Regions from separate parts of the Homo sapiens genome. Here region 2 is linked to region 1. A link means that fine-mapping ties the variant in region 1 to the expression of a gene that starts in the linked region. Tissue or cell type: whole blood. Region 1 holds a variant in brackets; the other region holds the start of a gene. All regions are shown on one strand. Distances are between the middles of the regions.

What was found. PIP is the estimated chance that this variant, and not a neighbour inherited with it, causes the effect.
Region 2: P2RY12 starts here. The variant in region 1 is fine-mapped to the expression of P2RY12 in whole blood (INTERVAL, PIP above 0.99).

Annotation. Positions count from the first base shown.
Region 1 is chr3:151,345,687-151,353,796 of GRCh38, forward strand. MED12L (mediator complex subunit 12L) reads left to right here. Exons shown (of 45, transcript NM_001393769.1): 17 at 4,373-4,520. All of the region lies in intron 1 of P2RY12 (purinergic receptor P2Y12), which reads right to left. Among named protein-coding and RNA genes, the nearest start is that of P2RY13, 20 kb to the left of the region's middle. The variant C/CTT (reference allele first, on the strand shown) is at 4,166.
Region 2 is chr3:151,380,806-151,388,915 of GRCh38, forward strand. P2RY12 (purinergic receptor P2Y12) reads right to left here and starts at 3,948. Exons shown (of 3, transcript NM_022788.5): 1 at 3,887-3,948. It overlaps MED12L (mediator complex subunit 12L), which reads left to right. Exons shown (of 45, transcript NM_001393769.1): 33 at 1,851-1,940; 34 at 2,974-3,083; 35 at 3,278-3,413; 36 at 4,225-4,386; 37 at 7,005-7,367.

The DNA of each region.
Region 1 (8,110 bases):
TTTGTATTTTTAGTAGAGATGGAGTTTTCCCATGTTGGCCAGGCTGGTCTCGAACTCATGACCTCAGGTGATCCTCCACCTCAGCCTCCCAAAGTGCTGGGATTATAGATGTGAGCCACCATGCCCAGCCTACATTTTCTACTTGTATGAAAAACTGATGTAAACAAATCTTGTAGGCTCTTGAAAAATAGTAGCTTCTAAAATGCCTCTGCCTGTCCTATTTGAAGACTACTGTAGTAACACCTAGCATGAGTTCCCTGAAAATATTAATGCTAAGAAAGGAATACTGTCTTTACACCCCTTATAGAGGTTGAGCAGTGATTCTTTTCCAGCTCACTACGTGCTGCTTTTGCTTTCAGTTTTATCCCTGCATTCTCAACTCATGACTTTGTTCCTTGGCCCAACTCCCTGAGCATATCAAGGCCAAGGAATGATTTGAGCTTCTTAAGTGTCTTCTTCACCTCAAAATGTCTTTTTATTTTCACTAATTTTCTTTTTTTCCCGATGGTCAAGTAGAAAGATGTTCCTTTCTTTCTTTCCATATTAATCCAGCTAAGAGGCCATTGTCTCTTATATCCTTTATCATCAGTTATCTGTTCCCCAATCTTGATTTCTACTATGGAAATTTGTTTATTTGAAAGATAGGTCTGAAACAAGAGTCTTTTGATGATCTTCATAACGCTCTTTCCTCTCAAGCTGTTGTTCTTCATGCCCAACTCCTGGTAAATGTGGGTCACTTCCCTATCTTCACCATTTCATCATCACCTCTTACTTTAACCGCTTGTTTCTTAGCTTTGTGCCCTGCCACTTAGAGAAACTTCTTCTCCTTTGAGGTTCACACATGGTTTGTCAGTAAACAAGAAGTCACATCCATTGTGACTTCTTAACCTCACTGGACGTTGTCAGTGACACTCTTTCTTATGTATCCCCTCCCCTGACTTGTGTGACCCTGAATTATAGTATCTTGTTAATTAAGGAGCATGTATGTGCACCATTTGCTGGCTTATTTCTCCCCTCACCATCTCAGCTCTCTTAGCCCTTCTTCCCTAAACATAATGTGAAGGTTTTGCACCCCTCCCAGGACTTGACATACTGCCCTTATTCCTGAGCTGTCACCTCTGTGTTAGGGCCCATATCAAACCAATTACTGGACATTTACACATTTCTACCTACCCTTCAAATTCCTTGCAATTACATGTAAATTCAAAAGTTCCCTGCTGTTATAATGTATTAATTTTTTATACATTGTAAATAGATTAATAATAATTACTTGGTAATATAAACAATACTATTTATTAGTATACATTATAAATAATTTTAACTAGTGGATACATCTTGAAGTCCAGTGAGATGCACATTTACTCCTTGGGTTCAAAAGCCTGATCCTTTCCTAACTTCTTAGATACCTCTTCATTTTGCTTCTTAGTCTTCATTCCCACCACTAAAACTTAGTTCACCCTACAAACTTTTTTACTCTAGCTTTGTCTCTCACATCTCCCCTTCATTTTTCTCAACACTTAATCATCAGGTAAAGTTTCCTACAAAACTAATTTTTCTCCTTATCTTCACCTCTGCCCTATTCCTTTAGCTATATATTTGTTCATTAGTCTGCTTATTTTGTATTTAGTATGTTCAACAAATATTAGATGCTAATTCATTGCCTATTAAGGAGATTATAAAAATGAACAAAACAGACATGGAGTCTTCCACAAAATTTACACACTAATGAGGAAGACAGACATTAAACAAATACCTAGAAAATAAGTGAATTATACTGTAATAAATGCTCCAAAGTCTACTTCCCCTCCTTCTGTGGGGAGGTTTTCAATAAACTGGAGTGACAGAGTGAGGGAACTGACACTGTATTTGTACATAGCATTTCAGCAAGTGAAATCGTGGCTATGAGAGTATTTTAGGTGTAAGGACGAGCAACAGCAAAGGGAGGAAGTGCCCTGGAGTCTTGGTGAAATGTTGAGTAAGGCAGTTCGGTGTGGGTGTGGGGGATGTGCAGAGGAGGAGGGGAAGTCTAGCATGTGAATTAACAGTAGTGAACACTGTCCATTATACTTCGAAGCATTTTACACGCTTTATCCCAGGTTTTCTCACAAAAACCTTACAAGGAAGCGATGTTACCCCATTTTTCAGAGGAAGAATTAGAGGTTTAGAAAGGTTTATTATTCGAGATCATGGACTTGGCAAGTGGCACAACCAGTATGCAGTCACAGCTCTCTTACCCCAAGCTTGGGCTATTATCAGTAAATTTGGAGCCATAGTGATCCTGTGCGATGTGAGGAGCACGTGGCTCTTTCTAGGATGCTTTCCTTCACCACCCCTCTTTGGACTTCTAGGTCTGTAAATACTACTTTGATGACATTGAATCTGTGCTCCTTGAAGACAGGAATCATTCATCCTTGTATTTTTTCAGGGCTCCTAGCATTTTGTCTTGCCTCAAATAGATATTCTATAAACAGTTACTGAATAACTATGCTACAGTCATCAGCCTTCACATGGACATTTACATTAGGACCATCTGATATGCCTTAACTGAAAACAATTGCCAAAGCATGTGACTGGCACTGCCTTCATTTTTCATAATTTTATTAGTGCCCCCCTGTTTCCTTCCTAGGGTTCATATGTACACAAACCACCAGACCAAAAAAAAAAAAAAAAAAAAAAAGAAAAAAGAAATATATCAGTAATTCTCTGTAGCAACAACGAAAATGGGAAATTAGCAAGCAGCTCAGCTCATTCAGATGCGCAGCCAGCTCTAGGGATCACTGCTTATGTCATTTGTATCCTATGATTAGGAATATCTTTTGAAAATTTGGGAGAGGTACTCAGGATATTAAATAAGAACAGCTTCTAAGAGAAACTCGCTCCTAGCTTCTTTTTTTTTTTTTTGGAGGCAAATTTGAACACCTGAAACATTAAGAATCATTTGGGGGTGGGGAATAGATAGATTGGCAGGGCATATAAATGTTTATTTCTTGTAATGTATAATAAAAAAGGAACCAGTGCAATGGGAAGCAGTGGCAAGTGTGTCCCTGAGAAAGACAGACCGACACAAAGACTGAGAGCCAAGTAACAGAATTGGAGAGAGAAAAACAGGCGCTTAGTTTAACGCTACAGAAGCAATATGCTACTTTGTGCAGAGTACACATGTGAAGTACTCCAGGTCAAACATTGGACTTCTCCTAGTCTGAGGTTTTTGTTCTTTGTTGCTGCCACTGCTAATTAGGAACACAGTGCAGTTTGTTTTCTCTGTGAGGAATTCTTTTCTCATATAAGCTCCTTAGGATAAGATGGATGCTGTTGGGAAGGGTAAGTGCTTGCCATGGGCAAAAATATACATAGAGTAAGAAAAGGAGGTTTACCAAAGGATAGATTTGGACATTTTCTAAGAAAATGGAAGATTATAAGATCCAAGAGAGAAATTGCTATAGAAAGATTCAGAGCCAGGCACAAGAGAGGGCACATCTTGGACTCTGTTACTTTGGCTGAGGAATGTGTTCAGTGGTGTGCATATGCTTTCGTTATGCTGTGACTAAATTTCTTTCCCACGTGGGGAAAAAAATGGTGCTTGGATTCACTGTGCCTATGGGGTGGTGGTGGAGAGGTGGTCCAGAAGGGAAGAGTGGTGATGTCAGAACATGTTTGCATTTTCAGCTGTTTGCCTCACACCTAATGACACCTACACGCTTTATTGTTTTGTCTTTTGGAAATAAATATACATGTATCTCACACAGTCATGTTGGAAATAAATGGAATATATATAGTTTTGTAGAGATGAAGTCTTGCTCTTTTCCAGGCTGGTCTTGAGCTCCTGTCCTCAAGAGATCCTCCCACCTTGGCCTCCCAAAGCACTGGGATTACAGACAGGAGCCACTGCACCCTGTCCAGGAATATTTTTTATAAAGGTGTTTGAGGATCCTAGCAAGATATTTTTCCCTAAATGTAAATATTTACTATTGCTATATATAAAACCAGGCTTATGAAGAGATAACATTTTCCTTAAGGGAAAAATATGACTAGACAATATGTTACATGATGTGAAATTAATACCATGTTCAATTTTAAACAATGAAAAGTTTTTCAATAGCCAAAACTTACTTTGTAGGGTACGCCCACATCAAGTGCTTCTATTAAGACTTCAGGTCAGTTGACA[C/CTT]TTTTTTTTTTTTTTTTATAATGTTAGCAAGTTCCAAACTGGAAAAACAAGGGTGTTGCCAGTGGAGGTTGAGGTGAATTGAAGGGAGGGCGGGATGCCACCACCGCAAGCCAGCATGGAGGTGCTGTGGTCAGTGCATTTCAGGGATATGAAATGCAACCCCACCCCTGCAGACAAGAGTTTCAGAATGCATTTTCTGTTTTTCAGGATGAATCTTCAAGTCATGAATGTAACCAGCGCACAATCCTTCTCTATGGAGTCGGCAAAGAGCGTGATGAAGCAAGGCATCAGCTGAAGAAGATTACCAAAGATATCCTGAAAATTCTAAATAAGAAGAGCACCACAGAGACAGGGGGTAAAGAACCTTAATGCATTTGCTCCCATTGTGTTGCCTTTTGCCTTCCCTCTGAGCACAGTCTTTATCAAAGTGTTCTATGTCACTGTCAACAGAGCGTTTCCCCTCCTGAATGACTCTCACATTGAAATGTGAACAAGCACATTTAAATTTTAAAGCCTTGTTTCCATTTATAGCAACCCTTGTATTAAAATATTAATACAAGGTATTAATATTAAATATTATTTTATTAAAATATTGTATTCCATAGGTAGGTGTAGGTAATTTATTCTGATTTTTGGTATACTTCTCAAATTTTCTATAGTAGTAATAAATGAAGTACTGAAGAATGAGTTGAAAACCTTTAGTCTGGAAGAGATCCATTTCTCTGTTTCTTTACCATAATTTTCCAAGCTTGTGGTTAGTTTTTTTTCTGGGGCACTCACATTTGCATGTTAATTGAAAATCATGACAGCATATTTGCTCACCTTTTCTTGCATTATTGAGAAAAATGATTGCAGTAGGTAGTGATGGCTACCTATATCTCCAAATGATTTCAAATAAAAGAATTTGATCTTTGCTCTATAATGTCTTCTTTAGTTGAAATGCTCTTTCCTCATCCTTTTGACATAGTTTTTACAGTGAAGCTGTGCCTTTATGTTGTATCACCACATTGCATAATTGGAATTTTGTAATTATCCACTTCACGTTTGCCTAATTATTCTTTTCAAGGTTTGTTTATTTCATTAGGCAATCAAATTATTTTAAATATATAATTAGGTATCCTGCTACCACCACTGGTGTTTATTTCTCTAATACTTAAATCATAGAAGGAAAAAGAAAGTTTGTGTTTACTCTATGTAAACAACATTCTTCCTGCACGTGGTATAAACCACCTCTAGGAGCCCTACTGTTCTGTAGTACATATACTTTTTTATGGACTCTTCACAGGAGATCCAGTTCCTAGACTTTAGCAGGATAAATTGCTAGAATTTGTCCACCCTAGATCTTTACTAGAGAAAAATACAGATCTTAATAATGAAGATAGGTTCTCTTTCTTCCCGGTCAATCATGGTGCACATGCAGAAACATGGTACAAGAGGCAGTGTGTTTCTATCTGCATATGGCATTCTGGGTATCTGATGTCAGAGGTGATAGTCCTCAGAACACAGTGGGAAAGTTATCCTTCCTGTTATTCACATCACCTTCCCTAACTCCCTTCCATTCCCAGTTAAGGGCTTTGAAATACCTCAGCTCTCTGAGGAAGCAACCAAGAGTTGTGGAAGGGAAATGAAACCTTCTTGTTGATGTGTCATTATTGAGTTTGAAAAAAGAAAGTGCTCTGTCTAAGAAAACTGTTTATCTGTTGTTTTGGTGTTTTCTCTGTCTTAGAGAAAAGAGGAAACAGTTGCATTTAGAAGATTGAATTTAGAAGCCCTGAAACTAGCTAGCAAAGAATATTTAAAACTACTTTTGGTATACTTGGCAATGGGGTAGGGGGGAGTCAGTATTTCCTTCAGGAGGTTCGTAATACATATTTTATCTAAATTATTTTTAGAGGGTCTTTCCAGAGCCTATGGAACTTTTTAGAAGGCTTGAGGGGTATGGGAAGGGGAAGGAAGCAATGTGGTATCCTTTTCTGTTGAGCGTACTAACTTCCTTCACAGCTTTTTAATGCCACACTATAGTTTGTCCTGTCTTTGTAGCAGTCCCTCAAATAGGCAATTCTAGCATATGAACTCACAAAGCGAAAAACATTGTTGTTCTGTGCTGCCTTTTGAGAAACAGGTGAGGTATTCCTTATACGAAGTGCTTGGGACCAGAAGGGTTTTGGATTTTGGATAGTTTCACATTTTTGAATATTTGCATATATAATGAGAAATCTTGGGGATGAGACCCAAGTCTAAACATGAAACTCATTTATGTTTCATATACACTTTATATACATACCCTGAAGGTAATTTTATTTTTCTCTTGGGGATGCTTAATAAACTGTGTTGTGTGTCTACATTTTGACTGTGACCTGTTATGTGAGATCAAGTGTGGAATTTTCTACTTGTGACATTATGTCTGCACTCAAAGTTTCATATTTTGGAGAATTTCAGATTTTGGATTCTCAGAATAGGGATCCTCAACCTTTTTCAGTAAATAGAAACATCATCTGTGGAACCACATCGTTGGGAGGGGATTTTTGACTTTCTTTCATTTTAGATAAAGTTCCTTAACCAGAAAGCTGTTAATTTGGGATGTAGTGAGCTGCTGTATTGTAAATAATCTTAATTTTAAGTCACTAGTTAAAACTTAGTGTAAGCACCAGAAATTAGCTAACTGTACTTCATATTAATGGAAATATGCCCACTTTTTTCAGCAACATGAGTACTGGTAAGGAAAACAGACCTTGTGTTAGCATGTATTTGATTTCTGGGAACACATGAAAATAATATTTTGAGGAACCAACTCATTTAGGAGTGTTGTCAGATCAGCCAGGTCTTGCCTAGGGGAATTTATAGTATAAAGTTTAAATAACATTTCCAGTTGAATGATCAAAGTTCATTTTTCATTTGCCTTGACCAGTTATCTTTTTTGGTTGTCAATGGTGTATCTTTTGAAAATATTAGTGAAGTTTACTATGACAACCTTTAAGAGGCTAAAGTTTCAGGACTTAAAGATTTTTAAAAAAGAAAATCAAAATTAAGCAACAAAAGAGCAATAATATGTTATAAAAGCAAATTAACATAAGAAAGATGAGGAAAAATATATATTGACTATAATGTTACTCATGTAAATATCATTAAAATAAAGTATTTCGTTGAGAATCACCACTGATTTCTTACATTTTGCTGTTAAAATGAGTATAAATTGCTAAGAACCAATTACATTCTTTTACATGAAGTTTTAAGAAGTTAGTGATACATAGATAAATGGAGTCCATTAACACAAACAAATAAAAAGGTGCACTTGGGAGTTTTTAGTAGGATCTACTTCTTTAAGTCTGTTGTTATTATTTGTTTTGTCCCAGGAAGAACTGAATCAATGCATTAATTTCACTTTTAAGGCATTTTGTGCACAAGACTATTGATGTTAGCTCTTCAGCCTTGGATCAAAGATGTTAGTAAATGAAAAATTCAAAACTTGGTTATTTTAAACATGCTCATGACATGTGAGCAGCTACAGTGAAGGCAAAATTTCATACATAATTTGTACTTTTGAGAATAGACATTGAAAAAATAAGCAGGTTTAATGAATTTGTTAGTTCCTAATCTTTGCATTATATTTGGTGTTACTGGCCAAAAGTGGCACAAGCTTGTAACTTATGTTACCCCAGCACCTTTAAATTCTGATGTACTCTAGCATCAAGGTTTCTTTGTTAGGGAATTAGAAAAGAACCAGCCTTGTGGTGTTTTGTTTTATTTTGTTTTTGACTGTAACCACTAATTGCTTATTGTTGAAAGAGAAGTCTCTTTTATTTTCATGTTATTGTTTAAGACCATTACATTTGCCATTAGCAAAATATTTTTGAGTTCAGTGAAATCTTGTTCATTTCTTGTGTCTTTAATAGAGAAATCTGTAAAGTAACCTTTGTTCTCTGAAATTAAACTTTCCTAAAGAAG
Region 2 (8,110 bases), 35 kb after region 1:
CTAACTCTGCCTCATAGGAGAGGACCTGGAGCAATCTATGCTGCAGTAGGCATGGCAGTGAGTCCAGCTCCTCAAGCTTGGATGCCACATTATCAGGCACGCTTTCAGCTTGAAATCTGTAGGTTCAGAAACTCAGTTGTATTGATGCCAACCAAGTACACAAGAAATAAATCAGAAGGCATGTTGGTTTATTTAGAAATAATTTGGACATTGCCTTTTCACCAAACACAGTTCTCCTGGTCACTGTTTGAGGCTCTTGCATCTATGTACTATAAGGAAACTGAGCATTCACAACAGAAATTGGAGAGCATGGAATTAAGCAAAGTGGATAGATTGGTCTTATGAGGTGTTTTATCCTGATACACAGCCTAATTGACCCCTTCTTGTGGCACTGTGTTTCTATGACACCATGTCTTTCCCTCGAATGGTACTAGATGGACATGGACAAGGACACTTAATCTTATTTGATCCTCTTGTCATTTCTCACCTTTTGGGTAGGAGAGATCTAGATATAGCAATCATAGTGAACCTTTTTAAATGGAAGTCACATATTACCTCAGTATACCTAGTATAAAAAATTCGGGCTGATAAGGCCAGACATGATTTGACACTGGCTCTCTCTCCTACCTTGTCTCCTACCAGTCATGGCCCTCTTTCCTCCATGGTTGTTGCACTGGCCATGTTACTGTTCTTGAACTTGCTGAGCAAATTCTCATTTCAGTGCCTGTGCATCTTTTCTTCCCTTTAGGTGGAAAGATTCCCTTCCAGAGATTAGCATGGCCTGCTCCCTTCATTCAGTTCTCTGTTAAGATGTTACCTCCTTCGGGAGGCCTTTGATCACCTCTAAAAATAGGACCACAGCCATTCTGTATGCCATTGCCATGCCTCAAACCACTTGTTACACTTAGTTTTATTTGTCCCACTACTATTATTTGAGCTCCATGAGAGCTTGTTGTTTAGTTAACTACCTTGCCCCCTTAAGCCAGCCTTAGGGAGGGGTTCATTTCTTCTGATGAGATTTGGGAAGTGCTTTCCTCTCACCTTGCAGGGTACTTACAGGTCATCTGTTGGGATGGAGTACTTCTGCATGTGACTCATTTGAACTCTTTTAAGATGACTCTCATTAATGACCATATTTCAGAGCATGATAGGGTTTTTGTTAGTGGTTTTTTGTTTTTGTTTTGAATTGCACTTTTTTTTTGCTCATCTCATCTGATTTTAGGGTGTTGCCCACTTGTGGCTCCCTTTCCTAAGCAAATTTTTCCTTTTCCAGCATTAGTGTGAGTCAGTGAGGAAGTGAAGAAGCAGCCCACTTTATAAACTGATAAAGCCACTTGGCTGATGTCTGCAATGCCATATTTTTCAAAGTACCGTGCGTTCTCTTTATCAAGGAAGACACATACATAAGATAGCAGACCTTCTCTTCTATAAAACATCAAAATAATACATTTGCTAGGGTTCAGCAAGTCCCTAGAAATATAACAGGACTGAGGCAAAATGTAATTCTCTCTCTCCAGTGTTTTTCTTCGTAAGATCAATGAGGTAATGTATTTTAAAAGTTTTTATTAATGCTTAATTTGATGGCCCTCTCAAGCATTTTCCCAGACTTAATCATAGGCTAGCTATATAATTATATAAGATTTTCTTCCTCCACCTAGAACGGCAAATGCACAAATAAATAGCCAGATTTCTTTCTGCATGGAGGAAGAAGAAAGCTAAAATTTTATTTAGCTTTGTTTGTTAATTTGTTAAAGATAAGAAGTGGTTTTTTGCTATCAGTATAAAGCTCAATTTATCTTTAAATGAGAGAAAAATTAAACTTTAATGGGGAGTTTTTTTCCGGATCTTAGATTTTAAGTAACTGGAGAGAAGAACGATACCAAGATGACATAAAAGCGCGGCAGATGATGCACGAAGCATTGCAACTCCGCCTAAATTTGGTAAGTGACATTTCTAGTATTTTCCCTCCATTAAACATATTTACATGTGAAAATACCTCCAGCTTTCCACTTCTCCTAAGTGCAAAGTCTGCATTACAAGGTGAGGCCTTCCACTCTTTGCTCTCTGTAATTACTTCCCTGTTTCTAAAGCCTTCTGTTTCCCTTGCTGCTTTCCTTCCTGTCTGGTCAGACATCTAGACAGTGCTAGGTATTTTAAGCATAGATTTGCCTTCTCTACCTCTACCCCAGTGAATCTCTCCTTCTCTTCAGTTTGTGCTAAGAATAAATCTGAGAAGACTGTTATAAGTGTTAGCTTCTACTATACTTACTTAAAACCATTTAAAAAGTCTTTTAACTCAAAGTTTTGTCCAACTTTCCATCAAATTGATTATAAAGACAAATCCCACAGAGAAGTTTTATAGAAATTTAAAATGTCTCACATATTGTGCATTCCTTGAGTTTTCTTTTCCCATCAGGCAGGCCCAAGTGCAGGCCCCTCTGGAGGATGGCCTGCCTGATACTTTTGCAGTTGTTTCTAACCTTGTCCCAACACGTGAACTGGTAGGTGTGCGGGCCAAGCCTCCTGCCCACCACTGCTGTGATAGTGGATGTTTCCATATGGTATTATGATAGCAGGCTTAGATTCAATAGTAATTGTACAGCAAACACAAAGATGCAGATAATTGGATTACATGACTTTGACATTATTCAGGTTTAATTCAACTATAATTGCATCATAAAACTGGACATCATAAAAGATTTGGAACAAAAGAAAGCTAAGTTTATTGGTGCCCACATTCAGATACTCACGTCCCTTCTTCATTTTAGTTAATGTTTGAATGACTGAACTGTGCTGAAAGAACTAAAAATAGTGATAAACATGTAGGTAAAAGAGAAAAGATAAGGTAATCTATAAACTAGAGCATCCCTTGTTTTTTTAAATAAAAAACAATCAAAATTTGATAACATAAAGCAATGGGGTGTTCTTTCTGTTTTACAGAATGCAAATATCTTACTGTATTTTGTCTGCTAGGTAGGAGGAATGTTTGACACGGTGCAGAGGAGCACCCAGTGGACTACAGACTGGGCCCTGCTACTCCTTCAGATCATTACTTCAGGAACTGTTGACATGCACACTAACAAGTATGTTTTTATCACTTCACATTGATTTTGCTACATGTATGCATGGTATAAGCTTTGATATACTGATGGCGATTTCTGCCACATCTTATTTACTTGGATGCTATTAAAAATTCTGTGCCTTGAATAAAAATACTCAGTTAAATAAGTGTATTTCAGTTTCACTTTAAGATGAAAATAATTATTTTCTTTCTTAGTGAATTATTCACAACAGTTCTTGACATGCTGGGTGTTTTAATCAATGGAACGTTAGCCTCTGACCTATCAAATGCATCCCCTGGGGGATCTGAAGAGAACAAGCGTGCATACATGAATTTAGTAAAGAAACTGAAAGTAAGTTTGAGATCAGCCTGTATTATGAGCTCAAGTTGTTTATGGATTTATTATCTAGTGCATTTTAATTTATTACTCATTAAATGTTATTAATTGTATTCAACTTAATTTAATGTGATTATTTGCTATTTGTTTCACCTAACCTTATTAGTACCCAGAAGTTACATGCACATAACCTTGATTATTTTTTATTGAAAACAATTACATTATAAAACATGTTTAATTTTTTAAAGAACTTTAGAAATCCACTGTTAAATATATAACCAGAATACTAACATTAGATAGATTTAGGATAACTCTATGCTTGGACTGGCACGTGTAATTGAAAAAATAGCCATCTGCATTGAAATTTATAAATCGATTCATTTGACCGACCACTAACAGACTCCTTTAAAAAAAAATTGTAAGAAAACAGTGCAAAAAAGAAACCAAATAAATCTGATGCATTACCAATCAAATAAATCAATGGTTACCTTGTAATCTGACCCTGGACATGAGAAAGTGTTCTGTTCTGCAGCTCCTGTCTTCTGATTGTGATCACTACCCTGGATTTTTGTCATTTCAGCACTATGATGTTTGTTGTGTAACAACAGTGCCTTTGTATGTGTTCTATTTTCTACTTAAATAGAAGAAATGAAACACTCATTGCTCTATTTGGAACTGCCTTGTAGAACATGTTCAGGGTTAAAGAACATGCGCTAAGCTATAAAAAGGGAAATGTTTCATAGGGGAACTTCCTTCTGGTTAACTTTTGCCTTCATTGTAATTTCTGTCCCACTTCTCACTCTCTCTCTCTCTCTTTTTTCTTTAGAAAGAGCTAGGAGACAAGCGATCAGAAAGTATTGACAAAGTTCGACAGTTACTACCTTTGCCGAAACAGACATGTGATGTCATCACTTGTGAACCTATGGGTTCCTTGATTGACACAAAAGGAAACAAAATTGCTGGATTTGACTCTATAGATAAAAAACAGGCAAGAGTGAATGTTTTTTCTTATATATAAATTTATTTACAAAAGATGAAATACTTTTTTTTGTCTTACCATAGGATATATAAAATATATTAATTTTGCTGTTGATGTTTTTAAGGCATATGCTTGTCTTCTAAGTGTACTTAGTCATTGGCATTATCATATAAAGAGGTCATATCTTTGAAGATCTACGTTTTATATGTTTAAAGGACTTAAAATGTTTCCCTGAATTTAAGTAAATTTTTGGAAACCTACCAAGAGAAAACTAAGTAAAAGCTTAGTGTAAAAAAAAAATTGCATAAATAAGTTCTGATTATACTTCAGATTTAGAAGCAGAATATATTTATCAATGAAAAATTTCTTGTAAGCTGAGCATGGTGGCACATGTCTTTAGTTCCAGCTACTTGGGAGGCTGAGGCAGGAGGATTGCTTGAAGCCAGGAGTTTAAGGCTGCAATGTGCTAGGCTCATGCCTGTGAATAGCCACTACACCCTAGCCTGGGCAACAAAGTGAGACCCTGTCTCTGGGGGGGGAAAAAAAAAAAAAAACCTTCCTGTAGTAAGCTATTTCAAATAAAAATTATTTTAATTGTTAGGATATTCTCTATTCCTATCAAGCAGTATTTAATGGACATTTGTTTTATATAAGATATTAAAGATGGTTCTCTAAAATATGAGAAAATTGGTCAGTTACTCTTTTAATGAACAGTAAGCAACCACCGACATTCCACAATCACCAAGATGAAAGACAGAGTTCCTACCCTCAAGGGGGAAGTAGACAGACAATTACAGTGTAATGAGATTTGTGTGACATGGTACAGAGAGAGTATTAGGGGATAGAATAGAGGGTCCCCAGGAAAATTGACACGAGTCATTTTGAAGGATTAAGAGTTAGCTGGGAGGTAGGGAAAATTGTGGTACAAATAAAGGGAGAGTTTATATGAAGACATGAAAGAATCAGATTTACCAGGGAATTTAGAGTAGCCTGAGAATCTAATACCAGTTTGTGTAAAGAAAAAAAGCTAAAGTCATGGTCAAGTTTGAGTTTGCAGTGTCAGCGGACTTCCTGGTAGTAAGACATCTGGAATCCATTTGGATGTGTGGTTTTTACACCAAGGAAAAAGTTCTCATCTCAAGACAAATATTAGGAAACAGTCAATTTACAGGTGGCAATTGAACCTTGGTTTTATTTTGTTTTACTTTGTTTATTTATATTTTTTGAGATGGAATCTCGCTCTGTCGCCCAGGCTGGAGTGCAGTAGTGCGATCTTTGCTCACTGCAACCTCTGTCTCTCGGGTTCAAACGATTCTCCTGTCTCAGCCTCCTGAGTACCTGGGATTACAGACATGCACCACCAGGCCCAGCTAATTTTTTTTTGTTTTTGTCTTTGTTTTTTTTTTTTTTTCAAGACAGAGTCTTGCTCTGTCACCCAGGCTGGAGTGCAGTGGCGTGATCTCGGCTCACTGCAACCTCCACCTCCCGGGTTCAAGCAATTCTCTGCCTCAGCCTCCTGAGTAGCTGAGATTACAGGTGCCTGCCATCATGCCTGGCTAATTTTTGTATTTTTAGTGGAGACGGAGTTTCACCATCTTGGCCAGGCTGGTCTTGAACTCCTGACCTCGTGATCCACCTGCCTCAGCCTCCCAAATTGCTGAGATTACAGGTGTGAGCCACCACACCTAGCCTTTTTTTGTATTCTTAGTAGAGACGGGGTTTCACCATGTTGGCCAGGCTGGTCTCAAAGTCCTTACCTCAGGTGATCCCACCCGCCTCAGCCTCACCAAGTGTTGGGATTACAGACACGAGCCACTGTGCCTGGCCTGAACCTTAGTTTTAGATGAAGCTACTCATAAAAGAATGCATATAGATAACAACAGTAACACTTACATCTTAGGGAATGACTGAGTAGTTATTTGGGGGCCATTTAAGGAAAAATATTTTTAAATTGACATTTTAAGGCAAGTGCCAAGAGATGTCACCAATTAATGTTAAGAATAAAAAGAGGGTAACCGTTTTTTTTTTTCTAGAGTCAGTAAATATAAGCTTGAGTTGAAAGACTTTACTTATTCCTGCTGCTACAATTTAATTCTCTAATAATAATATTATATTCAGAGTATGGCTTATTAAGTACAGGGCCCACATATTGAACCAAGTTCATGCAGATTTGGATTGAAGTTAATACTAACCCAATTACAGGTTGACTATAACTTGACTCTTAAATTTGATATTATCTTCAAAATTATAAATAGATTACAGAGATTTAGAACTGGTTATAATTTAGTAAGATTAACTTTGCAGTGTTAGAATTTTTAGCAACAAATTTTTAGAATTTTTTTAGCAAAAAGAGGAAATACACATTAACAATAAAATATGCTAGACTGCCTCTGTTGCCTAAACAGAGCATCATGTGGTTAAAGAACTGTAGAACCGGGCTTACAAAGGTCTGAATTCTAGCCACTGCTCTCCGGTGATGTAGCTGTGTAACCCTCTCTGCTGTATTCTCGGGTTCTCTAGGGCTCATGCCAGCCAAAGTGTTCTCTGACTCCATGTCCCATACAAGCCTGGCCTATGAATAAGGAAAAGATCTGAGTGTGCTATCTTAGAGCGCTATTTTCCCACAGGGTCTCCAGGTCTCTACGAAGCAGAAGGTGTCCCCGTGGGACTTGTTTGAGGGTCAGAAGAACCCAGCTCCTTTGTCCTGGGCCTGGTTTGGGACAGTCCGAGTGGACCGAAGAGTGATCAAGTACGAGGAGCAGCATCACCTCCTGCTGTATCACACACACCCCATGCCCAAGCCCCGCAGTTACTACCTCCAGCCACTGCCCCTGCCTCCTGAGGAGGAAGAGGAAGAGCCCACATCTCCAGTTTCTCAGGAACCAGAAAGGAAGTCCGCTGAGCTGTCAGATCAGGGAAAAACCACAACAGATGAAGAAAAGAAAACAAAAGGAAGGAAGCGCAAGACGAAATCTAGCTCAAGAGTTGATGTAAGTGGGGAAAGGAAGGAGAACCTTGGCTCATTAGCATTTAGTATGAGATTTACTCGTGCCCAAATCATATCCCTCGAAACATTACCAAGAGCAGGATAAGTTTTGTTATGACAGTTCTCCTAACAGGTTTCTGCATTAACTGAATGGCACACAATGACTTGTCACAGACAAAAGATTAAAGCTTTTGATTTTCCGTCCTCCACTTTTAATAATTTTATTTTAATTGTAGGCTTCCATTGTAATATTTAATTAATATTTCAGTGCCTCCTAATTTCCTCGGGTTTGAAACTTGAAATTTTTAGAACTATACAATCCCATTCTCTCACATATTTTTAATATGTCTAAAATATTTATTGTATTTTAAGTGGTTGATATCTTCAGTAAATTAACATAAAAAGCTCTATTTGGTTTTTCTTTGATAAAACTTGGAGTTAGCATAGCCAATAGGATGTTCCTGAGATTTTATGTTTTACTATTCCATCTTACCCTCATATATTTTCCTTCTTTACCATGTTTTCAGACTTTATAAAAGATGAAAATAAGCCTAATTTAAAATAGTTTTACTTCTTGTTTCTCTATTAGTGTTCCCCACGTATAATAATCTTTTCATTACAACAGAAATCTATTTGATGGTGATTTAGAAATAATTTTATAAACCTTGAGAAGTAATGCATAAAATGTTTTTCTATTTAAATTAAATTAAAACCTGGAAAATATTTGATAGAGGATTTGAGACATTT